Linked DNA regions of Homo sapiens. The protein of the gene in region 2 interacts with the protein of the main gene of each other region in a pairwise test. Each region holds a gene or a part of one and is shown on either strand. Other genes may lie near its edges.

Region 1 (6,798 bases), on a different chromosome or scaffold from region 2:
CTGTAACATATGGCTGTTTTAATAGAGTCAAAAATTTGGTCTATAGAAAAAATATCGTTAAACATGATAGTATATAATGCCTGTAGCACAGCAATGGCTAATGGAAATGGCATTGAGCTGACAAGGGGCTGGCTGCAACTGGGTCATTCATCCAGTGCAAACCTGTAACCTATAAAGAATGATGAGCAAAACTTCCACCTCAATGGAGAACAGTTGTTCCTGCAGCTTGAACATCTCTAGAGTTATAAGTTTACTCATCACTGCCCTCAGACCAGGGCAAGAGCCCATGTTAGAGGATCTTGCTCTGGGCTTCTTCTAGCCATGCCCCATGCTATAGGCCTAGGAACCTATGGGGCTAAAGGGATATGCCTATTGTTTTTTAATCACAGTGATATTTGTTAAACACAAAAGCCTATTTCCAACCTGTGATTTGGAGTCTGGCCAGACAGAACCTGGTGGCAGGATACTAATTGCAGGCATCTGCAATGTCCAGCCTGTGCTGTCAGGGCAGGCACAATAGCTGTTCGCTTCTTGTGGGAGAGCAGAGAGTGCTCCTCCTCTTGAGGCCTCATAAGCTCCCAATCAGGCAGGGCATCCTGCAGCAGCTTCTCTTCTCCTGAAAAAGTGACAGCAGCTGTGGCATCCCCAGTCATGGGTCTGGCATTGGGAAGAGTTCCTTGGAGAAATGGGTAATGGAGAGGGGGAAGGACCCAGCAGCTCGGAATCGGAACCAGCAACTCAATCCCAGCCACATGTATCTATTTTTAACTCTTCAGACTATAGTTAAGTCTAGTAATTGCCCTGGTAAGAGTGGTAGCCATTCCCATTGCCTTTTGGAAAATAGGTGGGAAACATCACAATCAGGTAAGCAGCCCAAGCATAAAGCTCACTGGTGGCAGAGCCAGGAAAAAGTTCATTTCTTATCAAATAGTTCATTCTAAAATTTATGTTAAAACAGCAATTTGAATAACTGTACTTCTATAAGATTTAGCTAATATCTTACTATCTTACTAATATCTTACTGAATCTTAACTATCTTGCTAATACTTACCCTCATTGATATATCAGTTCATTTTTGACAGTGTATTTCACTCACATACCCACATGAATGTGTGTGATGAGCACATGCTCTCAGTCCTGTATGTTAACCAATCTTGTTTTCCCCCCTTTAGTATCAAAAGGTTTTGGAGGGCAGGAACCATTTTGGCCTCATCTTTTGTGAACCATCACAACACAGAACAAAGCCCTTCACAGAGTGGGAGCTCCATAGACAGCAGTGCATGGTTCTAATAGTAATCCTTGTGAAATCTGAAATTCTCAATCCCCAAATTCCTGTAATATGAATACTAGAGACCAAGGAACTTCAGTCCTCTTGCTACAGCTAACAGCAGAAAAATTAAGAACTTGTAAAAAATGGTAAATAACAAAAAGGATAGTAAATTGATCCCCAACCAGCTGCTCTGAGACACAAAACTGCTTATTTTGTATGAGATCAAATATATAAACTGGAAGGCCAACAATTCTTGACAAGAGTGTCATGATACATGTTCATGACACAAGAAGTCGTTCCTGACCACTCATTAGTAATTTTGAAACCAAAGCCAAACAAGCCCATGTCTTTCTATACTCTAAGCCGCCATGCTAAGATTGTATTTTTTTTTAAATGTCTAGTTACAGTTTCTTGTGATAACTGAAGGAGAGAAACTGTAATTTAGGACACAATCTTTCCAACCCCATGATGTTGAAACAGGCCTACTGTGCTGTTAAGGAGAGACACTTTAGAGCTGCGAAGGGAAATGTATTGGTTTCCTGACTTCTAACAGTGAAAATTTAAAGGAAGTCAGATCAGAGAAGCAAAGCGTTCTGTGGGAGCAGGGAGAAATCTGAACCAAAGGAAGACTATTTCTCTTCTCTTTCTCAGAGATAATTCTCTGTTTTATTTTGCTTGTGAAAATTTAGTGAACAGACCTATTACAGATGGAAAATAAATGGATAGAGTTCAAGCCTCCAACCCCAGGGTGTCCATATATGGCCAGGAACATCCCACCAGAAAATGATGGCTAGAGGTAATGATTAAAATAACACCTTATGTTTGGGTATCCTTGATCTAAGTGATACATTTTCACGTATCTTATTTCAGTCCTCATAACAAGCTGTGAACTAGGCCAGTGGTTCTCAGACTTAGATTTCACAGACTAGTATAATAATAACAAACTAGTGTGACCAACATAAGGATACCAACTCCTTATTTTGCCAAACAAGGACATAAAAATAAGAGTTATTGGCTGGGCGTGGTGACTCATGCCTGTAATCCCAGCACTATGGGAGGCCGAGGTGGGAGGATCACTTGAGGTCAGGAGTTCAAGATCAGCCTGGCCAACAGGGTGAAACCCTATCTCTACTAAAAATACAAAAATTAGCTGGGCACGGTGGTGGGGCACCTGTAATCCCAGCTACTTGGGAGGCTGGGGCAGGAGAATTGCTTGAGCCCAGGAGGTGGAGGCTGCAGTGAGCTGAGATCACACCACTGCACTCCAGCCTGGGCAACACAGCGAGACTCTGTCTCAAAAAAAAAAAAAAAGAGTTATTAAATTACTAACTACAACTACAGTCTATTTTCATCATCATTTCATAAAAGGGGATTTTAACACCACAAAACTGGAGAGGACATAACTTCAGAATAAAAGACAAGCCTTTAAATTGAACACACTTAACTTGGTGAAACATTTACTACATTGTTAACTTTATCATTGTCACATTTTGGTCACAGGTTGTGGAAACCTTCATCTTGAGCTAGAACTGACAGATCCCCAGATGGATGTCTGAGAACCAGTGAACTTGGCATTATCAATCCCCATTACCAGACAAAAAGACAGGCTGGGAGGTGAAATGAGTCTCCAAGATGGGGGCTTAGCTAGTGAGGGCAGAGCTAGGCTGTGAGCCCTGGTCTTCTAGATCTAAGCCCATTACAGCATAGCCCTCCTCTGGTTTTGAAGAGGCAGAATAACACATATACATCCATTAATAAGTTATCCAAAGCGTTCAATGGCCACTTACCACTCTGGTTGGTAACCAGGTGGAAAGTGCCTCTTTTCTAGTTTCTAGAACAGCCACTAGCCAGCAGTTCTCATAGATAGACAACAGAACCTGCTCCTAGGAGGAATTTTATGGTCCTTAGCCAGATCCCTTCCTGTGCTCCATTAAATGCTCCAACATGGAAAATGCTGAGCACGAAGCCTCCGCTACCCCCACAGCATTCAGTAATTATGACTATTATTTCTATTGTAGAATTTGAGTGAAAAGGGCACAAAACTTTTTCATAAATATCAAATACTTGGTTTAGGTCCCTGTGGATTCCTGTAGACATGAAAAGAGCTTAAGAAGTCAAATTGTAGTTTGAGTTTGGACATCTCTGTTTCCCCATCCTGCTGATTATTCCAGCATTCCTCTCCCTTCCAAACCTCTGCCAGTTCTTAGGTCAACTTGAAGAGGGTTTTCAGAGTTGGAGTGTAAGTCTAGCCATCCCAGCCCAAGACTGAATCTTATTGGCAACCTTTTTCCTTTTGGAGAAGCCTATATATGGCCCTTAGATTAGGCTGAGAAAGAACAATTGGGGGGAAGGTTACAAACTAATATCACCCAAGGAAAACTTGCCAATACAAGGAGTGTCCCACGGAGAAATATGTGCTCTTTCTCTCTTGGCGCTCAGCAGCAAAATGGCAACTTTCGTCTCTTTCCTTTGCTGCCTAAAAGCCCACCTCCCACTTCTCTACCCCGCCCCTACTGTGCTGCACGACTGAGCAGATATGACTGGATTGGCCCTGATGGGTAGGTTTTACTGTCCAGCAATATTTTAAGCTCCCAGCCAGACAGCTTTTATGAAGGGAGGGATGTTTGGGAAACAATGGGAGTGAGAGAATGGGAGAGCTGTGTTGGGCACTGAGGGGAGGAGGATGGGGAAAGCTGATGTGTGAAAGCTTAGCTGGGGCTTCTGTGCCTCCCAAAGTTTCTTTTAGCAGCAGACTGGGCCTGTACATCAGTAAACCTTTGGCGTCTCTCCAGAGCGCATGAGCCTAGGGGCATTTTCCCAAGGCCTTATCATCAGCTGGGAGAATCTTAATGATGTAGGGACAGTAAGTGGTCAGTTGTGTGAATCCCTCTGCCCTGAGTCACACCAAGAGTGGTTGGTCCTTTCCAAAGGACCATATTTCATTTTTTATTGGTGGTTTGCTCTTGTCTCTCAAAGCCTTCAGCAGAATTGTGGATATTAGAGGCTGGGAAGTGTAGTGGCGGAAGGAAGGATGGGGAGCATGTTGCTAATAGATACAAAAGCACAGCTAGATAGGGGGAATGGGTTCTGGTGGTCTGCAGTGCTGTAGGGTGAATATGGTTAACATTAATTAATTAATTATTTTAATTTTTATATTTTTGTGTGTGTGTGAGACAGAGTCTCGCTCTGCCACCCAGGCTGGAGTGCAATGTCACGATCTTAGCTCACTGCAACCTCTGCCTCTCAGGTTCAAGTTATTCTCCTGCCTCAGCCTCCTGAGTAGCTGGGATAACAGACACCCACAACCACGCCCAGCTAATTTTTTTTTTTCTATTTTTAGTAGAGACGGGGTTTCACCATGTTGGCCAGGCTGGCCTCAGACTCCTGACCTCAGGCGATCTGCCCGCCTTGGCCTCCCCAAATGCTGGGATTACAAGCATGAGCGACCATGCCTGGCCGTTAACTATTTTATTGTATAGTCTCAAAAAGCTAGAGGAGAGGATTTTGATTGTTCCCAACAGAAAGAAATGATAAATGTTTGAGATGCTGAATATGCTAATTATCCTGATTTGATCATTACACATTGTATACATGTATTGAAATATCACTGTGTATCACAAATACGTACAATTATTATGTGTCAACTAAACATAAAAGGAAAGAGCTTTCTAAAAAGATCAAAACAATAAAAAAGAAACACAAACAAACCTTCAGCAGGGTGGTCTCCCTCTTTGAAAGGAGCCTTAACACTCCAAAGAATTCTGGTGCCATTTGTCAAAGTAATAGCCTTTCTCACCACGTTTCACTTATAATTACATATACTTTTGAGTAGCGGAAGTTCAATCAATGTCAGCTAACATTTTTAGACTTTAGTGCCTTCATCTGTTAAATGGGGATATGATGGTTTTGCTCACCAGGAGGCTCTTGGATTAAATTCTAATGTGGCTTAATGAGGAATGATGCTTGGAGGGCATGGACATATGCTCTCTGAGGCCCACTCCCGTCCCATCATCTGGGACTGACTATTGGTAGTATAAAAAATGGTTATTTTGACTACATTTCCAAACCAAAAATAGGGGCATTTTATCCTACAAGTTTATTCGTGAAAACAATGGAGCAAAAATAGTTGAAACTTAGATTGTTTTATGAAATCTGCAATGTATGATTACTAAATTGAAGACAACTTGGAGGGCAAACTAGACAAAAAAAATCTAAGCACTGGCTTCACCACCCCACCCCCCCTTCCTGTCCTTTCTGGTGTCATGGACATATTGCATTTTGATGGGGGCAGTTTGAAGGAGGATGGTACCAATGTTGTGTGAGTCCCCAATTCCATTTTAAATAAAATGGTCACTAGCCCAAAACCTTGTTTACTTTAGATGTCTGATTTCTTTTGAACTCCCAAGTTTGAGGGCCCACACTGACTGGGACAATGCCCTATAGCAAATCCTTCAGTTAAAAATAGATGGTCAAGGCTGATCCCTGCAATATCAATAAGGTAAGAAGTCAGAGGATGAGGGGAAAAAATCCAATCATTCTTTCTTTGGGAATATTCAGTACATGCTGATTCCTGAAGCTTGCGCTCTCCCTGATATAGTCCTATGAAGAGAAAAGAATCTACAAAGCTTCTCTTTAAAATGAAGTTCTCCCTATCCAAGGCTTCCCAGTCCAACTTGGCTAATGTAGTGGGTGGTGTCATCGCTCATCATCATTTTGTGAGAGATGGTAGTAGAGGATGCATTTGAATCCAGAAAAACGGGGCTGTCAACAAGGCTCTGAACCAGTTATAGTCTCTCGGATTTAGACAAATCTAGCTTTTCAATTTAGCACTTTCTTTGTTTTCTTACGCTGTTAACAAAGAAGATACTCCTCTACTCGTAGTACCCAATTGATTAAGTTATCTTTGTTATTGGTTCTTCTGTTTGTAGCTGGGAAGTCCTTGAAAATATAAACACTCAGTCGTGTATATCTTGGGGAAAGTTTTGAAAGAGATCGGGAAAGAGGCTCACCTTAGCTACCATTGAGAGATGACTTGTCTATTCCTACCAAGAATCACTTTCTCAGGTCTTTCAGAGGGATGTCTTCCCAGGGTGTCTGTATTGCATTATTTGAGATAAATAAGTAAATGTCTAGAATAGGAGACATAACCACATTCAAATGTAAGTTCCAATTTTATATTCTGTAATCTTATAGATTATTAGATTATTGACATTTTGGATAATCTAATGGTGGCATTCTCCTACCAGGGTTCGTTTTTCCTTTCTTTCTTTCTTTCTTTCTTTCTTTCTTTCTTTCTTTCTTTCTTTCTTTCTTTCTTTCTCTTTCTTTCTTTCTTTCTTTCTCTTTCTTTCTCTCTCTCTTCCTTTCTTTCTTTCCTTTCTTTCTCTCTCTCTCTTTTTCTTTCTTTTCTATTTTGAGACAAGGTCTTGCTTTGTCACCCAGGCTGGAGTGCAGTGGCCTGATATTGGCACACTGCAACCTCCACCTCTGGGCTCAAGCAATCCTCCCACCTCAGCCCCCCAAGTAGC
Region 2 (6,039 bases):
CCATGGCCTCACCACTGGCTTCGTGTCCCTCATTTGCACCTGCAGAGACCCTGCCCTGCCCCACCCTGGCCTGGTCACCACACCGAGTGCCCACTCGGAGCAGGCACTTGCTGTGTGGCCTCATGCCGAGCACAGTGCCTGCCCAGAGCCAGCTTGGGGAGAGATCTGATTCCTGCTTGTTGAGGGGGTGAAGAAAGGACTGAAAGAATGAATGCATCTTACAGGGCGTTACTGATTTCAAAGCAGTTTCAGGGGCACTTTTCCAGCCTGTCCTGACTGTGAGCTGTGCGCTTTTGCTACTGCAAATCGTTATGACAGCTGGGATGGGACCCACGCTGATACCTACCCAGCACGTACAGCACAGCCCTGCCCGTGTACTGCGAGACCTTTCCATACAACACGGAGCACAGCGCGTCAGTGGCCGAGAAGCAGATCATCACGTAGCCGACGAACTGGATGCCCAGGGTGCAGGTGACATAGGACTGGGGAGAGGGGTGCAGAGCCACGTCATGGACGCTCCCAGGCCTCCCGTGCTCAAGCTAAAGCTGCAGTCGGGTGCTTAGAACATCTGCTCTGAGATGGCCAGCAGGCCAGTGTTGCCTACACCTTCCTCTAGGCTCTGTGGCTCCCATGCAGGAGAAAAGCTGGTGTTTGTAAGAAAATCCTGTTTGGGGAGAACTAAAAGGAGGCAGTTTGGACAACTGCAGACAAAATTCTTTCTCATGTATTTCTCACTATTTGCTGTGAAATGGGCACTATTTTATATGGAAGCCAATACACCCTGCCCTTGCTGGGGCCAATCATTACCTGTTAGGTCTAAAGAGAGTTAAAAAAAAAACAGAGAGAGAAAGAGAAAATGAAAAGATTGCCCTGACACCTCTTCCGGGGCCTCAGAGCAGCCCAGCAGCCGGCTGCACATGTGTCTCATGCCCACCGCACCACACTCCCATCACGGGCGACCTCAAGGGCGGGCACGCAGAACAGGGACTGAGACGAGAAGACCAGCCACAGCCACATCAGGGGGGACAAGGACAAGTCCAGTGGAGGAGCAGGAGGGGCTGTCCCCAAAACGCCAAGTAGACCTTTCTGTTATCCTGTTTCTACTCTTTTAAGCTCCTAAGATTCTCCATCAAGGCTGTCCTAAAAGTAGCACTGCCAGATAAAGTTGAGGACACCCACTATGGCCTGGGCATACTCCTGGAGAGACATTTGTGGTTTATCTGAAATTCAAATTCTACCTGCTGAGGTGCTTTTTATCTTGCTAAGTTGGCAGCCTTGCCTGGGAGGGATCTGGAGCAGAGAAGTTTCCTCCGGAAGGAGAGCCTCTGCCAGACACAGGCCCTTGCTGGTCCAGCTCTGGCCCCCAGCTCTCAACAGCCTCCAGGAGTGGCTTCTTTCTTTATGCACCCTGAGGTGGGGCACCGCCTCTCTCACCTTGAGGGGAGAAGGTGGCAGGAGTGGATGGAGCAGAAGCTTCAAGAGCCACATCGATTTTTAGATTGTGAAGCATGATTTGAAAACTAGAGGTGCCAGGCACAGTGGCTCATGCCTGTAATCCCAGCACTTTGGGAGGCCGAGGCAGGCAGATCACCTGAGGTTGGGAGTTTGAGACCAGCCTGACCAACATGGAGAAACCCTGTCTCTACTAAAAATACAAAATTACCCAGGCGTGGTGGCACACGCCTGTAATCCCAGCTACTTGGGAGGCTGAGGCAGGAGAATCGCTTGAACCTGGGAGGCAGAGGTTGCGGTGAGCTGAGATGGCGCCATTGCACTCCAGCCTGGGCAACAAGAGTGTTACTCCATCTCAAAAAAAGAAAAAAAGAAAGAAAAAAAAAAACTAGAGAGATAAGAAATTTTGGTGGTATTCATGGACTTAATGCTTTTCCTATATGTAAACTCTAAAGTAAGAGTGCAGGGTGAGGTCCAGGCAGGGGTAACACCGATGAGTGTCTGTGGGGTGAGTCAGCGGCAGCTGCCCATCCACTTGTTCCGGCTCCTTCCCCAGGAAGACACGGATCAAGCAAGACGTTCTCCCTTGAGACAAGAAGTGGAAGCTCCTGTGAGTTGGAAGTTACTTGGAGGTTGAGACCTTGAATCATAAACTCAGCTATGGTAGCACTGGGAGCATAGGACCCCGCTCCCTCCAGCCCCAGCCCTGGGCAGGTGGCCTGAGACACTCTGCGGTCCTGCAGGTACAGACACAGGCAAGGCAGTGATGCCACGCATGGCCTGAGCCACCGGCCCTCACTTTCGTTCATACCCTTGTGTATTCGCTGGAGAGGAATCCTTGCTGCAATCCACTGTACAGCGGCAGCAGAATTAAGAGGCACAGACGTTTATCTCTATATAGCTTGAAAGTCGACAGTAAAGTGGACCAGAAAGGTACTGATTTCTTCTCTCCTTCACTTTCCCGCTGAACATCTCGTATGGGTTGGAGGAACGCAGCTATCATCAGGACAGCCAGGACACCACTCCCTGAAAGGACATAGCAAAGGCTTCAGCTTTCATGGGGGCCCAGAGGCAGGGTGCCTGGCAAGGATTTGTTTCAGTCACTCATCCTCCTCTCGCGAGGGAGGGCTAATTCAGATCCAGATTTCAGGCGACATTAGACACAACATGCTTAAGGATCTCAGGTGTCTAGTTGCACTTGATCGTGCTGATTCTCTGATTACCTCAAGACTTACCGGCTTTCACATGAAACCTGCCACAATAGGTCAGTATTGTCCTCACCGGCATAAAATACAAAAAATTCCGGAGCGACCCCAGAAGTTCTGAGTGTCCTTAACCATTGGACTCTGCTTCTCATTCTAATCCCCAACGCAATTTCTAACAGGAGACAGCTTTTTATTGATTTTTTTTTTAGGATAATGATTCCCACAAGGTACCATTTGCTACACTTTTGTTTATTTCAAATAAACAATTTTGTGCAAAAGTCCTCCAATAAGAACTGGTTAAAGATATTAAGGGGTATCTGAACTACAACAGAATGTTGTGCATTTGAAGAAAATAAAAAAGAAGCTCTTTATACACGGATGGGAAAATCCCCCACCATAAATGGTAAAAAGAGAAAAAACAAGCAAGATGCAGACCTCTGTGTAGAGTGCGCTACCAATTGAATTTAGTAAGAAAGGACATAAAGATGTGCTTGTTTATATGTGCATTAAATATGTCTAGGAATAAAGCAGGCATGGACTTTCTATGGGTGCAGAACGGGGTCTGAGGACGGCAGTGAGAGGGAGACTCCCCACCGCACACCCTTTTACAGTGCAGTGCTTGCCCACCCAAAGGGGTTCATTCCAAGGCCCCAGCGGATGCCTGAAACCACGGGTGGTGTCAGACTCTACATGTACCACGGATTTTCACTCTGACAGCAGAGGTGGCTACTGAGAGACTATGGCCCGGGGAGCATCTATGGTGCGGACACGCTGGACAGAGGGAAGGGTCACAGCCTGGGCGGGGTGAGCAGGACGGCAAGAGATTCCATCACACTACTCAGAACAAGCGCAACTTAAACCTTATGAATTATTTATTTCTGGAATTTTCCACTTAAGGTTCTCAGACCGCAGCTAGCCTCAGGTCACTGAAGCCACACAAAATGAAATGGGGACAAGGGGGACTCCTGGATTTGCATTTTGAACTATATAAATGGGTTATCTATACAAAAAAATATTTTAACTATTCATTTCATCCATGAGGAAACATCCTGTACTTTCTCATAATTCCAAAATATGACTAAATCTCCATCTGCCCACCACTTTATTATTTGATCCACCTCAATTTCTGTCGATGGAGAACTGATGTTTATTTAGGCGTTTCTCACTTTACTAGAAGCCCTTTCGTCCCCTCATGATTGTAAGTGCCGTCTGTGATACCATTGCATCTCCACTGTTTTCCTCCCACCTGGCAGTGGTAATGATACACAGTGTTTGGGGCACCACAGATGACTCAAGAGTGGTGGCGATCCTTCCCTTCTCTCTGGGCCAGAATCTTTCAGAACGGTTCATTTCTACCTCCGAGAACTTAGACCCCTGCTCCTCTAAAGACGACGGGAATTATCCTATCTTACTGTGCCTGACCAACCTTATCTAGTGCTTTCTCTCTCAGCATCAGTGTCCTCGTGTGACCCATGCAGTGGACTTGCTGCAGCACTGTGCCCGGCAGCTGAGCGTTCCTGAAACTGGGAGGTTTGCAAAGCCAGCTCTCTTCCAAGCTGTGTGCAGAAACAGCAGAATCCTAGCACCTGTCTCAGAAAGCACCATTGGTAATGTGGTTCCACCTAGAAATGCAGATTTATTTCTAGGCTTTACTTTCCGTTATCTGGCTACTTTCCATCTTGGCTAAACATATTCCCCTTCCTATTTCATAACTCAAGATTCTCATGAAGTTTGTGAAATTTCGTATGAAAGCAGGACTCCTGCTGCCACAGGTGTTTCTTGGTCACCCTTGATTTTCCTCTGTGTTGTCCTGGCCACCATGTGGTCTGGCAGGTTGTCACGCCTGCACAGGAGGCCATAGGGTATTTACAATGATCAGGGCCCCCTTCCAAGCCGACCCCCTGAGCTGACTGTGTGTAGACCATGTGGAAAAGGCACATTTTTCCTCCACTCACTGAAGGCAGCGCCTTCTTCACAATCTCGTCTTGTGGGCCAGGACTTCAGTGTCAAGCAGCCCAATAGGACACAACCTACAATCTCCCCGAAAGCCTTGTGGGAAGGGGAGAGGCAGGTTATGAACACAGAAGCCACACCCCTTTGTTCAGAATTATGTATGTCCGGGTGTCATGTGACTCAGAGCCTTCTGTGGGGCATGAATTGGGGGATGCTGCACAGCTGTGTCCTAAATTCTAAAGAGAATGGCTCTTTGCAAGAAACTTGACTATGAATGCAATGCTCAGAAACCCAGGAAAGTTACCCAGGGAGAGGGTGTTCTTGTTCTTTTAGGTCCATTTTTCTCTCTTCCTATGTTTTTCTTTATGGAGACATGGTCTTGCTTTATAGAAAAGGACACACACAGGATCCTGCAGGACTGTTACAATCACAATAGTAAGACCACTTCTTCATTTACATGTGTGTGATCTCTGCTCTACATAACTTCTAGACTTGGACTCCCTTAGGCTGCGGGATTCCGTGAACCGAGATGGGGCTGTGGCCAGAGAGCACACTGGGGGTAACCCTGCAGGGGAGGTTCCACAGACAACAGCCACCTGCGGAGGACAGCTGGCAATGAAGGGCCTGGAAGCCACAGAGAAGCCTGTGCTGTTCCTCTAGAGCAGGGGCCAGCAAACTATGGCCTGCGGGCCAAAGCCTGCCCACTGCCTGCTTTTGAAAATAAAGTTTTATTGGCATGCAGGCATGCTCATTTGCTTACATGTTGTCTATGGCTTTTTCCCATTACAAAGACAATGTTGAACAATTGCAACAAGGACCATATGATCCTCAGAAAGATACTTACATGTAGGAATATTTGCTGTCAGCCCTTCACAGAGGAAGGCTGCAGCCCCCACTCCAAAATTCTGTTCTTTTATAGATAGGAGAAGTCTTTGTTGGTGGCTGCCTAACTGGAATTTGTGGAGCTGGAAGGAGACCTGATGGTCTTGACTCAGCTCAATGTCCCCGAGTCCCCCAGCCTCCTAGTTATGTAGAGGAGGTGGTGAGGGGAAGTGTTGGGGAAGCACAGGCCTGGCTGGTCCCTGGGACCATGTTGATGGGAACCTTGGGGCCTGCTGGGAAAACATGACCACAATTCCAAGTCAGCAGAGACTTGCAGACCAGAGAAAACCGTGGCTCCTCCTGACTCCCTGTCCACACCTTCCACTCACTTCTGAAACCCTCAGTCTGGGCCTTGCACACGAGCACCCTCCCCAGGTTGCTCGCCTGATGGGCATCAACAGCCTCTCACTGGCTAAGAGCCTCGTCCAGCCTCCCCCCTGAGCCTCCTAGGGGCCCTGCCACACTCAACACTCTCAAACCCCCTCCCCAGCTGATTCTACAACCCTGGTGTCCTCCAAGACCCTGGTTTGGTTTTCTGTCTCCTTCC
Region 3 (6,039 bases), on a different chromosome or scaffold from region 2:
GCTGGCCCTGGCAGAGCCTCCCCTATTGTGTCTCCCGGGCTTCCGTGGAGAGTTGGGTGTGCAGCCTGGAGCTCCCAGCGCTGGCTTCTGGCTCTTACAAGTGGTGGCTGGTAGAGGAGGCACCCGAGGGTGGGAGCTGGGAGCAGCCTCGCTGGAAACATGGGTCTGCCGCGTCACCTGCTGCAAGCCTGCACGCTCGCGGGACCGTGGCTACTGGAGGCTTCTCCCCACCAGTGTGCTCTCTGCCACTACTTCCTTTGTCTCTGTGGCTTCGTGCTGTCTGGCTGGGCTAAGATTTCCAGCTTTGAAGATGGATCAGTGGGCATCTCAGGCCCTCTCTGAAAGGAGCCCCCTTTGGGGATCCAGCCACCCTCATATTATGGATGTGTATGTCTACGTCCGCAACTTAGCCTTTTGCACGTGACTTGCCTGGTCGTTGCCATGGAAACTCCTCCATTTCTCAGCCTCCCTCTTTCTCCTGCCCATTCCTCACCTCCATATCTCCTCCCCTCCCCCCAGTATGGTTGCCTAGATACTGGTTATCCCTGGCTAGGAGACCTAGATATCTGGCTCCTACACCCAATTGCAGTGGCCCCTTACTCACACCACCCACTTCACACACACTGCACATCACCAACACCACAAACACATACAGACATATACCACACTACGCAATCAACACACCCTCACACTCACACCACACATACATATACATCATACCTATACACACATACACACCAAACACACCGCATATATACCGCACCACCACACACCAGCTACAATGCTACACTGACACCCTACATGCGCACTGTGCATGCACACACACACACACAGTACATCTAAATAAGTCTCAGGCTGGGCTGAGGCAGGGGAGAGAGAGGGCAGTTTCCTTCCTTATCCAGCCACCTCCCTAGGGGTGTGGAGGGGAAGAGATGGAGGCTCAGGAAGCCCAGAAGGAAAACCCTAACATCTCCCTGGGAACCCTGCAGAGGAAGGTGGAGGGAAAGGCACTGCCAGATTCCCTCAAAAGAGGAGCCCCTTCCCTAAACCTGGAAGGGAAGGTTGGATAAAGAGTGGGCGCAGCCCTTTTCCCTCCTCCTCAAAGCCCCAGTCCGGAGCTCCAGGTGTTAACGAGAGCCATTCCCAGGTGCTGGGCTCCAGAAGCTGGGCACTGACCAGAATTTCAATCTCTCCACTGCCGCTGCTCTTTTCCCTGACCCAGAGAAAGCCTGAGGCTCTGGGAGTCATCCTCACCAGCAGAGGATCAGGCCAGCTCTGGGACCATCGGAGGCTCTGAGCCCTAACAAAGGAGAGAAGGAAAAGTGGTTACTGTCCCAGGAAAGCCAAGGAGGCCAGGCCAGGGAGGCAGGAAGGGGAGGGAAACCAGAAAGAGGGAAGGAGAGGGGCCACAGGAGTCAAGAAAGCGAAAGTTAGGGCTACCCGCCGTTGCCTGGGGTTCAGGCCACCCTCTCTTCCTGGCACGTTTTCCTGCTTCCCCCCTGGCTCCTCCAAACAGATCTGTGCATCTAGGAGAGGAAGCGGGTGTGCAAAGGGCTCTAGGCTTGCCAGGGTTCTCCCAAGACGTGTGGCTTCTATGGTTGACAGACGGTAGGCGCCTGGGGGAAGCGTTTCCTTCCTGGCTTCCATCGGATCTTCAGACTGACCTGAGGACCGATTTCATTCAATCATTCAAAGAACTGTTTTAAGTGTCTACTGTGTATTAATTGCTGGGGACATGAAGGTGAGGAGGGAGACACAATCCCTGACATCGGAATCCTAGGTTTCTCAGAGCCGGAAGAGGCCTTGAGGGAGCATCCAGTGGGAACACAGTGGGGGAAACTGAGGCTCAGCAGTCACGTGGCCAGTAGTCGCTGAGGCCTTCTAACTCCTCGGCCAGGATTTTGGCCTTCACACTGCCTGTCCTGCAACCCTTGCTTTCTTTTCTCAGTCACCATCAGAGATGGTGGGTTGATGGAAACCTATGGAGGGAGAGCCTTTGGTCGGCTGGTGACTGGGACGCCCTTCCAAAGTGAGGGTCCCTTAGTGGGCGGGTACAACCGAGGAGCCTGCTTCACTATGTTTTCTTGGAAGGCGAGGCTGGAAGCTGTGGCAAGGAGATGGGGGAGAAAGGGCAGTTTCCTAGACCCTGGAAATTTCCCGACAGCCTCGGGGGAGTCCACCCACCGAAATCTCCCCTAAATAAGAGCACCTCCTCTCTTCCTCCCAACCTTGTTGGACTTAGTCGGCCGCCATCTGGATGGCAGACTGTGCCAGGCAGCCCCCCAATATTCACCTTCGAACAAATCACCTTCTGAGCACCCTAAGGGAAGCAAACCAGTCAAGAAAGGCACAGCCCCAAGGAGGCAGGGAGCCTGCTGTGGAAAGGCCGGGTTCTAGCCCCAGCTCTCCCCCTGAGCTTCCGTGCTACCGAAAGGCAAATGCGTTCATTGCACAAATATCCCTTTGGATGCAAACTGGGCTTCTGGTGAAATCCAGAAATGGCTTGGACTGCTCTTCAGCAACTGAAAGCCTTTCGGATTTTAGACCTTTGTTTCCGCATCTGTCAATAGTGGGGTTTAGACTCATGATTTCCAAGGCATGTCTTCCTCTAAATTTGTGTGGATTATACAATCTTGAAAGAGATCCCTTTTCTCTCCAGGTACCAAATAGTACTCATTATTTCATAATACAGGGCTGCAGCTGAGCTGAGCTGAGCAGGAAGGGGCTGGGCTCTGGTTACCCTGGAGAAAGTTTCCTTTTCACCCAGTGTGGCAGAAGGTGCCCTAGAAGCTGAAACCAAGTTTTTTTCTTTAGGGCTGAGGGAGCCACCTCCTCCTGGATGCTGTGGTCTACCTGGCCTTTTCTACCAGGCTGCACACTGGAGGCGGGCGGCGGTTGGGGGGGGTTCTTTAAAGAGTTGTTCTCTGGAAGAGACAACTGGAGAGGACTGGGCTGTCATTTTGGAGGTCCATGAAATCTTCTGCAGGGAGAACCCCTGGCCAGCTGGAGAGTTGCAACGAGAGGGGCCGGTCGGGAACACAGTGCTCTGACACCGTCCCTGATGAGAGGCAGGACATCTCCGGCCGAAACAAAAGCATGGAACCAATTTGGCAGCATCATCTCTGCTCCAGAATCCGGGGAGGGAGAGGTCCCGACCTGGGAAGGGATGAAGCCAGCTTGTAGGCTGCGCAGGAACATGTTTGTTACAAAGATGTGGGAGGGAGCACACAGCCTGGGAAAGGGGCTGGGCCCCCACGGACCAGGCTGGGGCCATGGGAATGGGGCTGCCCCAGCTCAGAATATCTGATGTGGGCAGAGAGGGCCAAGGATGAAGGGGTGTAGTTAGAATAACAGTGACCCCCACGCAGCTGGAGGACAAAGCCAGGCCCACACTGAGAGACCAGAGGCTAAGGTTTCAAACTCCCTCGTTCATCCTTTTAATAAATGTTCCCCTCATATGTCAGGCAGGCCCTGTGGGCTTCTGAGGTTTCTCCTTTGCTGGAGCCCTCCTGCTCAGGTAGATCAATGGGCTTGTCCTGTTCCTTCCTCTCCCCTACTGTCCACCTCATGTCCACATCCTACCAGGAGGCCCTGCGACTTTCTTCCTCCATAGGAAGAGCCCCTCCATGCAATCACGGGTGCACTTACACTCTCACACACGTTCCCTTCCTCACACATATATAATCTCCCACACCCGACAGGGAGGCAGTGGCTCACACATTCTCACACGCCCTGTCACCTCTCCCGAAGAGCTGCAGTCTCTCAGACCATGGTGATGGCCTGTGAACGTCCACCCTCTCAGCCCATTCCATTTTACCCACTGATGTTACAGCTCAGGTCCAGGTTTGCCACTCCTCTGCTCAAAAACCTCCCCAGGCTCACCAGTGCCTATTAATAAGCACAGGTACATGGTGTAGGCACTCCAGGCTCAGCGTGACCTGGCTGCAGCCACCTCTGCAGGCACCTTCTCCAGATGGTCATCCGAAGCCTGGTACTGTCTCACCCTCTGCCTGAGCTCAAGCCGTTGCTGGAATGTGCCGAGTAGAGGGTGGCAGTCTTTGTAGACACACAAACTTGGATTCTAAACTGCATTCTGATGCTTCCTGGATTTCTTCACTTTGCTAAACCTCAGTTTCCTTACCTGTCAAATGAGTGTGAGGACAGTATGAGGCGAGCTGTGTAAAGGGCTCAGCATGCTGCCTAGCATGGAGTAAACACTCAGGAGATATCAGCTGCTGTAATAATGATAGTAATGACACATTATTAGGATTATTAGAATGGCATTATTATTGTTATATCATCCTTCGTGGCTCCTCCCAAGTGTTTATTCTTTCAAGTAATTATTCCATATTCCCAATAAACAGGCATTAAAATTCCCAATAAACATACTCATATACCGTGAATGTCCTGTCAGTTCTTCCTTGAGAGCACACACCTGCATTTTAGCTGCAGAGGGACACGCCCCGCCTCCCACCCCGCCCGCTCCACTGCACCGCCTCTCAATGGCAGGTCTGTTCTCCCCACGGTGCCTGGCACAGTGTCAGACACGTGGAGAAAGCCCAGTGAACAGCGTGTGTGCTGTGACACGCATGGGGAAGAGTCCTCATCACCAGGAGGTGTAGACACCTAGTCGCCCTTCCCGGCTGTCTCCCATACGCCGGTGCACACCACGCGTTCCCAAGATGCACATCCCTTTATTACCGTGCGTCACCTCAGTCTCCCACTTGCTTTGGTAGAGTCTAGAAACTAAGAATTTGACCCCATCTGAGGTCTGAGAGATGCTTAAAAGCTGAAGTCAAAGGAGAGAGGCTGATTCCTCACAGCATTTTGGTAGTTGGGATTTGACAGAGACACAGAGATTAGAAATGAGGCAATGGAGGAAGGAGGATACCGAGAAAGTTTTAAATGCCTGAAAAATTCCCTACAGATCCTTTGGTTGTTCTGAGCTTAGAATGGATTTGATGTAAAGGGATAATGATGCTGAAGCGTCCTTTCATTCACACATCAACATTTATTGAGCAGCTGCTGTGCTCAGTGCCAGGGATCCAGAGATGGCCAGAGTGTGCCTGTGCTCCCAGGGAGCTATGGTGTGATGGGGGCATACACTGGTGACAGCCCTACATGGGAAGGGGTGTAGGCCTTGGCTCTGTGGGTATGAGGATGCATTGAGGGGAGGGAGGGGATAATGTGTTTCCTGAAACAGAGACAGAGTCAGGTCAACAGCCCCCTCCTCTAAAGGCAGGGCACATTTCTGGGTATCCAGGCCCGTGGGTCAGGGTTCATCTTCATGCCACTTCTACCCCTAAAAGGGAGACAATATGAAATTGTGCAAAGTGCCCTGTAGGCTGAAACATGCAGGCCAGAGCTGTCCTTCTAAAGAGGTAGGCAGAGAGAGCAAAGGGGGCTGCCTGGTGCTGTGGCCTGGCTGTGGGCAGGGTGGCGTGGGCCTGGCTTCTGGGTTCCTGGCCCTGGCAGCTGCTCTGGGTTTCTGTGTCTGCTGCTGGGACTGCTGTCTGTCCTGTCTTGAATGGGCCTTTGTCAGCAGGTGTGTGGGGGAGGTGATCCCATCCTGGCCTGACTCCATCACGCCCTGCTGGGGCGTGCAGCCTGCTGGGGCCCCAGCCTGTGGCTTCTGTGCAATACCACTCACCATTCAGACTCTCTGGAGCCAGACCGAGATCTCCTGGGGAACCAGAGGGGCCTCAGCCCCTGTGCTGGCAGGCAGGAGGCCTGAATCCCACTCTGACTCCCTCTGGGCAAGGCGCGGCATTGGCCTGTGCCTGAGTTGGCCTCGCAGTACTGTTCTGTGTTTCTGCTTCTGAGGGCTGTTGTGAGAAGTCCATGGGTGATGGCTGGGATGCCACAGTGTCACGGTTGTCAGTGATGGTGAGGTGACAGCAAGACCTGGGAAGGGGGCTGGGGCCCCACGGACCAGGCTGGGGCCCAGAGAATGGGGCTGCCCCAGTTCAGAATATCTGATGTGGGCAGAGAGGGCCAAGGATGAGGGGATGTGATTGGAATGACAGTGACCCGCATGCA
Region 4 (6,669 bases), on a different chromosome or scaffold from region 2:
TACCAGCCTTCCTGGACGGTGCAGGCCTTCCTGGACGGTGCAGACCTGCTGGGAGAGGGTCCGATTCCCCGAGACTTTTCCTGACTGCAACATCCTCACCACCCCCTAAAATGTGCCAGAGCCTTTTCAGGGGCAAAATCGAGGAGAGGAGGTAACAATGAAGGCCGGACAACCATCAGCGGGGACGAGAGAGCGTCAGGGGAGAAGGGGCCGGTCTCCCTCCAGACACACACTCGGCAGCAGGCAGGGCCACGGACCACAGTGGACCTACCAGCTTCCGGCAGGAACAACAGCATACCCAAGAGGGTTGCCAGGCAGAGTTATCTAACTCAGGGTCCATGTACAAAGGCAGGGGTCAGGTTGAAGGAGACAGCAGCGGCCACAAGTCCCCCTCAAAGCCAGCCAGCAGCAGGAAGCCACCAGCCCCTCGGGCTTGCAGGGATGAGGGGGAGAGCACAGTGACCAGAGGCTGGCCAGAACCCGGGGGACAGGAGAAGCCTGGCTGACGGGACCTGGGCCTTCTCTAGAGGGCCATAGCCACTGCCACCACCACCCAGCCACTGGCAGGAGAGCCTGGGCCTGCTCTAGAGGGCCATAGCCACTGCCACCACCACCCAGCCACTGGCAGCAGAGCTTGGGCCTGCTCTAGAGGGTCCTAGCCACTGCTACCACCACCCAGCTGGCTGGCAGGAGAGCCTGGGCCTGCTCTAGAGGACCATAGCTACTGCCACCAACACTCAGCCGGCTGGCAGGAGAGCCTAGGCCTGTACTAGAGGACCATAGCTACTGCCACCAACACTTAGCCAGCTGGCATGAGAGCCTGGGCCTGCTCTAGAGGGCCATAGCCGCTGCCACCACCCACCGCCCAGCTGACTGGCATGAGAGCTTGGGCCTGCTCTAGAGGGCCATAGCCACTGCCACCACCGCCCAGCGGGCTGGGCCTGCTCTAGAGGGCCATAGCCACTGCCACCACCTCCCAGCTGACTGGCAGGAGAGCTGGCCTGAACTTGCCTCTTCCACTCTCTCATCTCCTGCCTGTGGGAGCTGGACCAGCCTCCCAGGACATGGAGCAGGACGGAGAGGGGATCTGGGGCAAACAGAGGCCATACAGCCCTGGGCCTAGCCGCTGCCTCCTGCTACTGCAGAGGCTGCTAAAAGCTGCACTTCCCCGACTCGTTTGCAGCTAAAGTTCCAAGCTGAGGGGGTCACTCAAGGTCCTGAGGGTAAAGCACCTAGCCCAGGGCTCAGCCCACACTGAATGCCCCATAAATGAAGGCCCGTCCAACAGGGTCTCCTCCCCAGGGAGGCTGTCCCCTGTGTCAACAAGAGCCAAACTCTGTAAAATATTTGAAGACATTTATTCTGAGCCAAATATGAGGGACCATGGCCTGTGACACAGCCCCCAGGAGACCCTGAGAACATGTGCCCAAGGTGGTCAGTGCACAGCTTGATGGTACCCATTTTAGGGAGACATGAGACATCAATCAAATATATTGAAGATATACATTGGTTTAGTCCAGAAAGGTGGGCAGCTGGAACTGGGGGCTTCCAGGTTATAGGTGGATTTAAACATCTTCTGGTTGGCAATCGCTTGCAAGAGTTATCAATAGAAAGGAATGTCTGGGTTATACGGGGTTGTGGAGACCAAGGCTTTATCATCAGATGAAGCCTCCAGGTAGCAGGCTTCCGAGACAATAGATGGTAAATGTTTCTCATCAGACTGAAGGCCTGTGTTGATGTTAACGCTGGCTGTTCCAGAGTTCTGAAGGGAGGAGGGATAATGAGGCTATCCAACCCTTTGCTGTCATGGCCTGAACCAGTTTTTCAGGTTAACTTCGGAAAGCCCTTGCCAAGAGGAGGGTTCCACTCAGATGGCTGGGGGGCCTTAGAATGTTACTTTTGGTTTATACCGGAACAGCCCCTGCCCCTGTCCTTTGCAGCACCTGCTAATGATCTGTCAGTGACGCTGTGACCAAGGCTCATCACCCTGCGGGCCGTGGGCCCCAGAGGGCGGCACAGCTTCTATAGGAGCACAGGGCCCAGGGAGGTGCCCTCATCCTTGGCTGGAAGGCCGAGGCCTGGAGGAGTCTGGAGAAAGGGTCTCCCTTGTCTGGCCTTGCACTGTGAGGTGGGGGAGGTGGGAGAGGCATAATCTGGGTCTTGAGGACGTTTCAGCCCTCAGCCCGGGGTGGCTGAGATATGGCCCTGGGTAGGCTCTGTCCTCCAGAGGTGGAAAGAAGGACAAAGGGAGAGGGAGGTGCAGGTCGCTCAGGGAGGAGACTCGGACCTGCCCAGCCCCGGGGCCCTCACTGGCTCCAGGAAACCCGCTGGTGTTGACTGTGGGCAGTCCAGCCTCTCCCCATTTGAGGCCATATAAAGTCACCTGAGGCCCTCTCCACCACAGCCCACCAGTGACCACGAAGGCTGTGCTGCTTGCCCTGTTGATGGCAGGCTTGGCCCTGCAGCCAGGTGAGGCCTTGGCTGGCCCCCAGCAGGGAAGGGAGCAGGGGTGAGCCGGGGAGGCCAGAGGGATACCTGCAGGGCACACGGAGAGGAGGGGAAGGAAGGAGGAAGGGAGAGGAAGGGGGTGAGGCTCTTGCCCTAGCCTCCGCTCCTCCAGGGAAGCTCTTGGCACGACCAGGCAGCGACCTGTTCCCTGCCGTCCCCTGTGACCGGGGCTTGCAGGGGCAGCACGGAGTCACTCTCCTTCACCACCGTGGGGCAGGGCCTGGCTCCTAGGGGGCAGGTAGACAGACTGACGGATGGATGGGCAGAGATGCTGATGAGGAGCTGGGAGACATGGGACAGGAAGCCTCAGGCTAAGAAGTGGTTTTTGGGGCACAAGGGGGAGGTGCTGGGGGTGTCCTGCGAGGACCCGGGGGTCTACATCCGGCCCAGTCCCAGCACTGCAGCTTCCAAGGGTCCCAGGGAGCTGCTCTGCTTGAGGTGGGACCCTCCCGACCCAGGGTCCCGGGTTCAGTCACCCCCACAGCCGCAGCTTCCTCTTCTGAAACACACGGTCACAAAAGCAGCCACCGAGGGACTAAACAGGGCAACATTTCGGAGGCACTGAGCAGGGGGCCGTGAAGATGGGGAGGAGACATTGAGGGTGACAAGAGGGCGCCGAGGACTTCCTCAGGCCACCGCCATGGAGGCCCACCTGCCTGGGAGCCCCCATTCCTGGGGAGTGCTATGGGGCAGCCTCTGAGGCCCCTCCCACTCCACCCCACAGGCACTGCCCTGCTGTGCTACTCCTGCAAAGCCCAGGTGAGCAACGAGGACTGCCTGCAGGTGGAGAACTGCACCCAGCTGGGGGAGCAGTGCTGGACCGCGCGCATCCGTGAGTGGGGGGACGACAGCCGCCAGGCCTAGGTCTCTGCCACTGAACTATTAATCTTTCTGGCCATCTGTCCGCATCTGTGTGCTGTTTTCCTTCCACCTGTCCCCGACCCGTCCCGCACCTGCACCCCCAACAATCACCCAGCATCTGTCCCTCCAGCCATCCTCCTCCATCTGCCACTCCTCCACTCATCTGTCCCTCCCCATCCTCCATCTTCCACTCCTCCACCCATCTGTCCCTCCCCATCCCTGAGCTCACTTACTCACTCACCCCATTTCTGACGCTCAGCGGGTGGTCCATCTGCCTCGGACATCTGGATAGGGCTGAGACCAGGGCCGAGACCAGGCCCTCGCACTGCTTGCAATCCTGAGGCCAGCCCAGGGGGACTCTAGAGCATTAGGCAGGGTGGGACAGGAGGAGGCCTGGGGCAGGTCAGGCAGGTGAGCACACAGGGCAGCCCCATCCCCGGATCCCGCTGCTCCCCAGGCGCAGTTGGCCTCCTGACCGTCATCAGCAAAGGCTGCAGCTTGAACTGCGTGGATGACTCACAGGACTACTACGTGGGCAAGAAGAACATCACGTGCTGTGACACCGACTTGTGCAACGCCAGCGGGGCCCATGCCCTGCAGCCGGCTGCTGCCATCCTTGCGCTGCTCCCTGCACTCGGCCTGCTGCTCTGGGGACCCGGCCAGCTCTAGGCTCTGGGGGGCCCCGCTGCAGCCCACACTGGGTGTGGTGCCCCAGGCCTCTGTGCCACTCCTCACACACCCGGCCCAGTGGGAGCCTGTCCTGGTTCCTGAGGCACATCCTAACGCAAGTCTGACCATGTATGTCTGCGCCCCTGTCCCCCACCCTGACCCTCCCATGGCCCTCTCCAGGACTCCCACCCGGCAGATCGGCTCTATTGACACAGATCCGCCTGCAGATGGCCCCTCCAACCCTCTCTGCTGCTGTTTCCATGGCCCAGCATTCTCCACCCTTAACCCTGTGCTCAGGCACCTCTTCCCCCAGGAAGCCTTCCCTGCCCACCCCATCTATGACTTGAGCCAGGTCTGGTCCGTGGTGTCCCCCGCACCCAGCAGGGGACAGGCACTCAGGAGGGCCCGGTAAAGGCTGAGATGAAGTGGACTGAGTAGAACTGGAGGACAGGAGTCGACGTGAGTTCCTGGGAGTCTCCAGAGATGGGGCCTGGAGGCCTGGAGGAAGGGGCCAGGCCTCACATTCGTGGGGCTCCCTGAATGGCAGCCTCAGCACAGCGTAGGCCCTTAATAAACACCTGTTGGATAAGCCAGAGAGACCCTCTGTCCTTGCACACCCCAGGCGGGCACCGGATCCAGGGCTGTGTCTGGACCAGGGCCCTGGTCACATGGGCTGCAGCCTCCGCCCTAACAGGAGCAAAGCTTGGCCCCTGAAAGGAGGACGTCCCTGCAGAGGGTGGGAGGGCAGTTCCCAGGACTTGCACTTGCTGTGCTGCCTGGAGCATGTGGCCAGACCTCTCTGAGCCTTGCGACTCATCTATGACCCCTCCTTGCTGGGAGGATGGACCCAGAAAGTTCACAGGAAGGAGAGCGTTCCGGGGGGAGGGACTGCTACCATTCAAGCTCCTACCCATCCCCTTGGCCTGATTTGAGCACCCCCATTTTTCAAAATTTGTTTTAGAGCTGCACACCCACCATACAGCATTCAAACACTACAGCAGGGTCCCCGGTGACAGGTGGCCTCCCCCAACCCTGAACCCCAGCGCCTTCCCTCTCTGGGGTGCCCATTACACCTCCAGAGGCTTCTTTCTGGGAGAATCTGTGCCCCGTGAGCATCCCCAGGCCCCTGAGTGGGAGGACACCATCCACACTTGCCTTCTGCGCTCAGGGGAAGCCTTTTGCACACAGCCTGCTTCCCGCCCTAGGGCTAGGGGTGCAGCCTGTGACCTGGGTGGGGACCTGCTCAGGGTGAGGCCTCCAAGGGTGTTAGGGGTGGGGCTCGGGGGGCGGTTTCAGAGAAGAGGAGACAGAGGCTCAGGAAAGGGAACGGGTCTGTTGCCCACATCCCATACCGAGCCAGGATTGGAACCCTGGCCTGGAGCTCTGAGGGTGGGTCATGGAGCAGACAGTGGGCAGAGCTGTGCTGGAAAGAGCCAGGCCTCCCGTCTGACATGTGACTTCACGGGGAGACCTCCCTCCTGAACACTGGGGGCCCAGGGTGGCATTGTCAGCAGGGTGCAGCTCCCCAGGCCAGCATCTGAGTGACCCTGGGCACTGGTCACACCCTCCCCGCCTCGCCTACACCCAGCCCAGCCTGCCCGGCTTCCATGGTGAGCTCTGGGCTTCCATGGTGAGCTCTGCCCAACACCTACCCACCCTCCCAGGCCCAAGGCACACTCAGACCTGCCTTGGCCCAGGGCCTGAGTCCAGAGTTGAGGGCTAGGCCATTGTTTTCTGGGAGGGCCCTGCAGACCTGGGAGCCCGCACAGAACTCTCCACCCCTCAGGGCTCAGGTGCAGGAACTGGGGCCTGAGGCTCAGGCAGGTGCTTCTGGCCACACTGTGTCTCCTGAAGCTGCCGGCCCGGGCTTGCTGACCTGCTCTGGGGAGCATCAAGGACGCTGAGTGAGGGAGGCTGGTGCCCTGCCTGGCTCCATCCACTTAGCACACAGTTATCTAACCCTTGGTATGGTATGTTCCACTGCTGTTTCAGTTGCTCCTGGTCACCCTGGTGATAAAAACTGGGAGAAAAAAAGGAAAGCAAGGAAAAAGGATCCAGAATGCTGAGATGGCCAGGGAGGTGGTCTGGAGGCCTGCAGTGCAGAGGCAGGTGCCTCAGTGATAAGAGCGGCTGTCCTCACTGAACAGGACTCAGCCCACTCCAGTGCCCACACAGCAGCCCCTACCCCCTGGTGGAAGGGGGTCCTTCTCCCTGGGGCTTAGGTTCAGAGACACAAGGCAGCGTGCTCCAGGGCTAGGGCCCATCCACATCGGGCTGGGGGTGTCCAGAACAGAGCAAGACAGGACCCTCACACCCTGTTCCCCAGAATTCCTCGCATTGGAATACCTTGGACCAGGTGAGGAGAAGAAGGGCAAGGATGCGGGAGGCCTCTCTGGACTCTCGATGCCAGGGCCAGCCTGAAACCTGTGGCCCCCTTTGACCTCCTGAGCTGTCCCTCAGGTCACGGGGCCTCTGAGCTAAGGGCCTGTGAGGATGCCCCGCCCTGCCCCTCCCTCACACCATGAGGATGGGGCAGGAACCTGCTCTGGCCACGTGGCACATGGGGGACAGAGGTCCTCCCTGTCCTGCTGCCTCCTCAAAGGACAGACGGCTGACCTCTCCAAGGGCAAG
Region 5 (6,039 bases), on a different chromosome or scaffold from region 2:
TTCTAGTATTTCTATCTGTTTGGGTGTACCTGACTAATCCATAGCTAAAATTCCTCTACCGCAGTTCTAGAATAAGGAAAATATGATGGTGTCTTAGAACCTCACAGTTTTTTAATTAACTTTAGCAATCTGCACATCGTGCTGCCACACGAGGCTTCATTCGTTATGGCTGGCGCTGGGGTTGGAGAACTGCAGTGTTTGTGACTATATTCAAGTAAGTTCACTCTGAATTGTGAGATAGTGAATTTTCTTGATATTGTTTTAGGAGTGTGTCTTTTGAGCAGGTGGGGTTATGAAAACTGAATACCCACATGAAAGTGATTAATAATGCCTTTTTTTTTTTTTCAAGAACTTTTCTCTGTGTAAAAGACTGGTGTAGTTATGGTTTTACAACCATGTCTGGAACACATTGAAGGGGCCTAGGCTAGGAACAGGGATTGATATAGTAGGCTTTTCTAAATCTATTAAGTCAGTGAAAATAACACTCAAGAAGGTAAATGGGATATGCTTTAAATCTTATATTTTCCTTCTCCTCCCTTTTTACCAGCACAGTGAACACTAGTCTGAATGTATACCGAAATAAAGATGCCTTAAGCCATTTTGTAATTGCAGGAGGTAAGACATTTTTGTTTATATTTTTCAGTCTTCTCAAATACAGTTTAGAAAATGTGTAAGGACTTATACATCAGAACTACTGAATTCTTTGGTTGGCTTCCCATTACATCTCATCAACATTGATGCAAAATGTATTTATGGACAGTGTTGTGCTTCACCCTTGATATACTCAATGGGCAAAACAGCAAGGCCCTTGCTTTCTTTGAATTTTAATGTCTAATATGTATGTGATAATACAGGTTGTTGTGATAGAAAGTAACAATTCGGTGGAACAATGGGATCTCATATGGACAGGGTAGTCAAAGAAGGCCTTTCTGAGGAAGTGACATTTGAGCTGATACCAAAGAATAGGAAGGAGCAAGACTTGCAAGGAAGGGTGTCCTAAATAGAGGGAACATCAAGGGGGAAGGCTCTAAGGCAAAACATTTCCTTAAAAGCAGGATAATAACGTGGTGAGTGAGGGAAAGAGTAGCTTGAGATGAGATTGGTGAGGACTATAGGAATGGACTAGATTTTTTATGGTAAGAACTTGGATTTTATTTTAAAGCTCTCTGCCTCTAGTATATATATGTATATTTTCTTTTTAATGAGCATTAAAAATAGAAGGTACAATGGTGATTACCAGAGACTGGATATGGGGTTGGAAAAGATGTTGGTCAAAGGATACAAAATTTCATTTAGACAGGAGGAATAAGTTCAAGAGATCTATTTAAAACATGGTAACTATGGTTACTAACAGTGTATTGTATACTTCAAAATTGCTTTTAAAAAGTAGATTTTGGCCAAGCGGTGGCTCACACCTGTAATCCCAGCACTTTGGGAGGCCAAGGCAGGTGGATCATCAGAGGTGATTTGAGACCAGCCTGGCTAACATGGTGAAACCCCGTCTCTACTAAAAATACAAAAATTAGCTGGGTGTGGTGGCAGGTGCCTGTAATCCCAGCTACTTGGGAGGCTGAGGCAGGAGAATCACTTGAACCCAGGAGGCAGAGGTTGCAGTGAGCTGAGTTCACGCCATTGCACTCCAACCTGGGCAACAAGAGTGAAACTCTTGTCTCAAAAAAAAAAAAAAAAAGTAGATTTTAAGTGTTCTCACCACAAAAAATAGTATGTGAAGTAACGTGTAGGTTAATTAGCTTAATTTAGCCATTCCCCAATATATACATACTGCAAAACATGTTATACACCATATGTGTACAATTTTTACTTGTCAGATTTAAAAAATAATTTTAAAATGAGCATTCGTTTCAGAAAGGTAAGTTAACTGCTATATACACTCAATCACTAACTTGTGTACATTCTTTTATGTACAACACACATATGTATTCTGAACATAAGTTTGTTTTTGTTTTTTTTTTTGAGATGGAGTTTTGCTCTTGTTGCCCAGGCTGGAGTACAATGGCGCGATCTCAGCTCACCACAACCTCCGCCTCCCAGGTTCAAGGGATTCTCTCCTGCCTCAGCCTCCCTAGTAGCTGGGATTACAGGCATGCGCCACCATTCCCAGCTAATTTTTTGTATTTTTAGCAGAGAAGGGGTTTCTCCATGTTGGTCAGGCTGGTCTCGAACTCCCGACCTCAGGTGATCCGCCCATCTCGGCCTCTCAGAGTGCTGGGATTACAGGCGTAAGCTACCACGCCCGGCCTGAACATAACAGTTTTTAAATGTTTTTTTGGGAATAAGCTTACAAAAGATTGCAAAATAAAAATAATACAAAGGGCAGTCTCTATCCTTCACATACAGAGACTTAGCCATTGTTAACAATTCATGCTGAGAATTTATCCGAAATTAAGTCAGACAACTTGCTTTATCTTCTTGCTACTGCATGCACTCTCCCTCTTCTCTGTGTATATGTGTACACACATGGGAAAACACACAATTTGAACTTTTTTTTTTAACTTTTAACTTCAGGGGTACATGTACAGGATGTGTAAGTTTGTTACTTAGGTAAACGCGTGTCATGGAGATTTGCTATACAGATTCTTTCATCACCCAAGTATTAAGCCTAGTATCTTAGTTGTTTTTCCTGATCCTCAAACAACATTTTAATGAAAACTTTTTAAAATACAAAACTAGAAATAGGCATTAATAGCGTTAGAGCAGCCAGATTGTTTCATTTTTAAATTTGCAAGCATTTTTACATGGGTCTTGTCTACCCACTTTTACTTCCTTACTTGCTCCTGCTGTTACGTTCTCTGTCAATTGTTAAATGTGAAAACCAGGCCAGGCACAGTGGCTCACGCCTGTAACCAGCACTTTGGGAGGCCAAGGTGGGCAGATCGCTTGAGTATAGGAGTTTGAGAACAGCCTGGGCAACAAACATGGCAAGACCGTGTGTGTGCAAAAAGTTATCTGGGCATGGTGATTCATGCCTGTAGGCTCAGCTACTCAGGAGGCTGAGGTGGGAGGATGGCATGAGCCCAGGAGGTCGAGGCTACAGTGAGGTGTGATCATGCCACCTCATTCCAGCCTGGGCGACAGAGCGAGACCCTGTCTCAAAAAAAAAAAAAAAACTAGAAACCAAGGAATGATATGGTTCTGCTCTTTTTTCTCTTTCCACTTCTTGTCCTATTAATTATACTCATTAAATATATATGGATTCTTTCACTTCTTTTTTCCCACTGCTACTATCTTATCGTCCCTGTTTCTAATCTTGATGTGCTCTACCTGTAACCTAGTTACATTTTTGAAATATGAATATGATTTTGCCACTTTTCTGTTTGAAATTCTTCTATAGTTTCCTGTCACTTTAATGTCAATTCTTGATCTGGCTTCCATGCGCCACTCTTTTGCTTTCACTTTACAATCTCCTCGGATTTCCCAACATGTTCTTTCCTTTTGTGAATCAGTCCCTCTTCTTGAATGCACTTTCCCACTACCACAATTAATTTTGTTCGGCTCCTACTTAACCTTACCTTTCAAAGTCCAGATCATTTGTCAGCCTCAGCTTCCCTAGAGAGTTCTCCCTAGCCATTTTCTCCCTAGCCATGTTTAGTTCTATTTAGCTGTCTTTCCCTTGTGTTCACATACTTCACTGTTTTTTTCTTTATCTTTGATTTTCTGCAGTTTGAAAATGATATGCCCAGGTGTAATTTTGAGGAACATTTACTGTGCTTGGTGTTTTCTGAACTTTCTGGATCTGTGGTTTGTTGTCTGACTTAATTTAGGATAAATTCTCAGTGATTGTTTCAAAGATTTCTTTAGCTTTCTCTTCTCCTTCTGGTGTTCTAGTACACTTATACCTTTTGTAATTGTTTCACAGTTCTTGGATATTTTATTCTGTGTTTGTTTGTTTGTTTGTTTTTGGTGGAGGAGGTTCCCATCTTTTTTCTCTTTGTCTTTCGGTTTGGGAAGTGTCTGTTGATAATGTCTTCAAGCTCAGGGATTCTTTCCTCAGCTGTGTCCAGTCTACTATTCTTCAGTTCTGTTACAGTGGGTTTTTAAATTTGTTTTATCGCTAGCATTTCTTTTTGATTCTCTCTTCGAATTTCCATCTCTCTGCTTATATTGCCCATCTATTCTTGCATGCTATCTACTTTATCCATTAGAGCCCTTAGTGTATTAGTCATAGTTGCTTTAATCTCTTCATATGGTAAGTCCAGTATCCCCACCATATCTGAGTCTGGTTTTGGTGCTTACTCTCTTAGTTTTACTTGGTCTCTTCAAACTGCTTTTGCCTTTTAGGATGCCTTGTAATTTTTTTTCTTGATAGCTGGACATGATGTACCTGGGTAAAAAAGGAATTATGGTAAATAGGTCTTTAGTAATTTGGTATTAAGATGTGGGAGAGGGAAAGTGTTTTGCAGTCCTATGATTAGGTTCTTAGTCTTTTAGTGAGCCTGTGCTTCTGAACTGTTAACTTCACAAGTGCTTTTCAGTTTTTTTCCTCTCCTTTGGTGGGACAGGATACTACAGTGGGTTGGAATGGGTATTTCCTTTCTCCCACATGGGAGGCTAGAGCAGTTGCATTTGGATATTCCCCAGGCTGGTTAATCTCTGACAAAACCCCAATAGTTTGGGCTGTGCAAAACCATTTATCTTGAGGGCAGGCCTTAGTGAGAATAACGGAATGTTCTGGCATATTTCAAAATGGTTACTTTTCTTCCCCCTTGCCAGAAGCCTGAGGGGATTTTTCTCAGATCTTTACTGGGAGAACTTGGTAGAGCTCCTGGAGTGTGGGGACCCTCTATGATTGGCTCCCCTACAGTTTTTAGGTCTTAGACTTTTCTACACTGAACTTCCAGCAATTTATCATTTATAGTCAAGGTTTCCTACTCTGGTACTGGTTTCCATGGAGGCTTCTGCTCGTGGGTTTCTGCTCTAATAAGGTGTGATTCTCTGTATTTATCTGTCTGTCTCTCCTATTTTGAGGGCAGCAGTTTACCCATGATCTCACTTCTTTGGTGGATCTAAGAAGAGTTGTCAGTTTTTCCATTTGTTTAGCTTTTTACTTGTTGTTAGGAATAAGTGATAAACTCTAAACTTCTCACATGCCATACCAGAAACTGGAAGTCTCCCTTTCCTTTTTGCCCCACATCTTGACAAGCTGATAAGAAAGCCCAAGTGCTACCTTGGTTGACACCAGCAGGAAGTTTCAACCATGCAAGCTCAGGCCTACATGAGGGAGCTCTTGCTCTAGCCCCACCTTCTAAAACCACAAGCCAGTCAGTCAGCCTTCAGGTTCTCAAGTCATTTTGGGACATGCTTGGGATCTTGCCTTGCTCTCCCTGGAAAGCCTTATTATATGTGTAATAAACCTTTTGGTATCCTCTTAGTACCTCTTGGTACTTTGGCATTTCAATATCTGATTCAAATTTTGGGTGGGGGAGTTTATTGTCTCTGGAGGGTAACCACAACATCTTGCAAGTAGAAAATCCAAATGAATTAAGAAAACCATTGGAAGGCCAGGTGTGGTGGCTTATGCCTGTAATCCCAGCGATTTGGGAGGCTGAGGCAGGCAGATCTCTTGAGGTTGGGAGTTTGAGACCAGCCTGGCCAACATGGTGAAACCTCGCCTCCACTAAAAATACGAAAATTAGCTGGGCATGGTGGTGCACATCTGTAATCCCGGCTACTTGGGAGGCTGAGGCAGGAAAATGGCGTGAACCTGGGAGGCAGAGCTTGCAGTGAGCTGAGATCGCGCCACTGCACTCCAGCCTGGGCTACAGAGTGAGACTCCATCTCAAAAAAAAAAGTTAAGTATAATTTACTGTGCAACTCAGCAATTCCATGTCTTAGAATCTGCCCAAGATAAATGAAAACATGTCCACGCAAAGACTTATATATAAATTTTTATAGTGGTGTTATTCTCGACAGCCTCAAACTGAACCCATAAATTCATCAACTAGTGAATGGATAAATAAAATATGATATGTCCATTCACTTGAATATTTTCATCAGTAAAAAACTGATACATGCTGCGAC

The links.
Region 1: the proteins of UNC93A (region 2) and GJA8 interact in binary tests that used the Homo sapiens proteins (3 or more experiments, as listed by UniProt).
Region 3: the proteins of UNC93A (region 2) and FXYD6-FXYD2 interact in a two-hybrid assay, tested with the Homo sapiens proteins (one large-scale study listed by BioGRID).
Region 4: the proteins of UNC93A (region 2) and PSCA interact in a two-hybrid assay, tested with the Homo sapiens proteins (one large-scale study listed by BioGRID).
Region 5: the proteins of UNC93A (region 2) and TIMMDC1 interact in binary tests that used the Homo sapiens proteins (3 or more experiments, as listed by UniProt).

Annotation. Positions count from the first base shown.
Region 1 is NC_000001.11:147,899,718-147,906,515, reverse strand, and holds the start of GJA8 (gap junction alpha-8 protein), read right to left. Parts: upstream 3,722-6,798; 5' UTR 3,655-3,721; intron 1-3,654.
Region 2 is NC_000006.12:167,300,358-167,306,396, reverse strand, and holds part of UNC93A (protein unc-93 homolog A), read right to left. Parts: intron 2,479-6,039; coding exon 2,264-2,478; intron 483-2,263; coding exon 347-482; intron 1-346.
Region 3 is NC_000011.10:117,869,897-117,875,935, reverse strand, and holds part of FXYD6-FXYD2 (FXYD6-FXYD2 read-through protein isoform 1 precursor), read left to right. Parts: intron 1-6,039.
Region 4 is NC_000008.11:142,678,095-142,684,763, forward strand, and holds PSCA (prostate stem cell antigen preproprotein), read left to right. Parts: upstream 1-2,400; 5' UTR 2,401-2,444; coding exon 2,445-2,469; intron 2,470-3,232; coding exon 3,233-3,340; intron 3,341-3,826; coding exon 3,827-4,038; 3' UTR 4,039-4,631; downstream 4,632-6,669. UniProt on the Homo sapiens protein: May be involved in the regulation of cell proliferation. Has a cell-proliferation inhibition activity in vitro. May act as a modulator of nicotinic acetylcholine receptors (nAChRs) activity.
Region 5 is NC_000003.12:119,503,407-119,509,445, forward strand, and holds part of TIMMDC1 (complex I assembly factor TIMMDC1, mitochondrial isoform 1 precursor), read left to right. Parts: intron 1-125; coding exon 126-214; intron 215-547; coding exon 548-615; intron 616-6,039.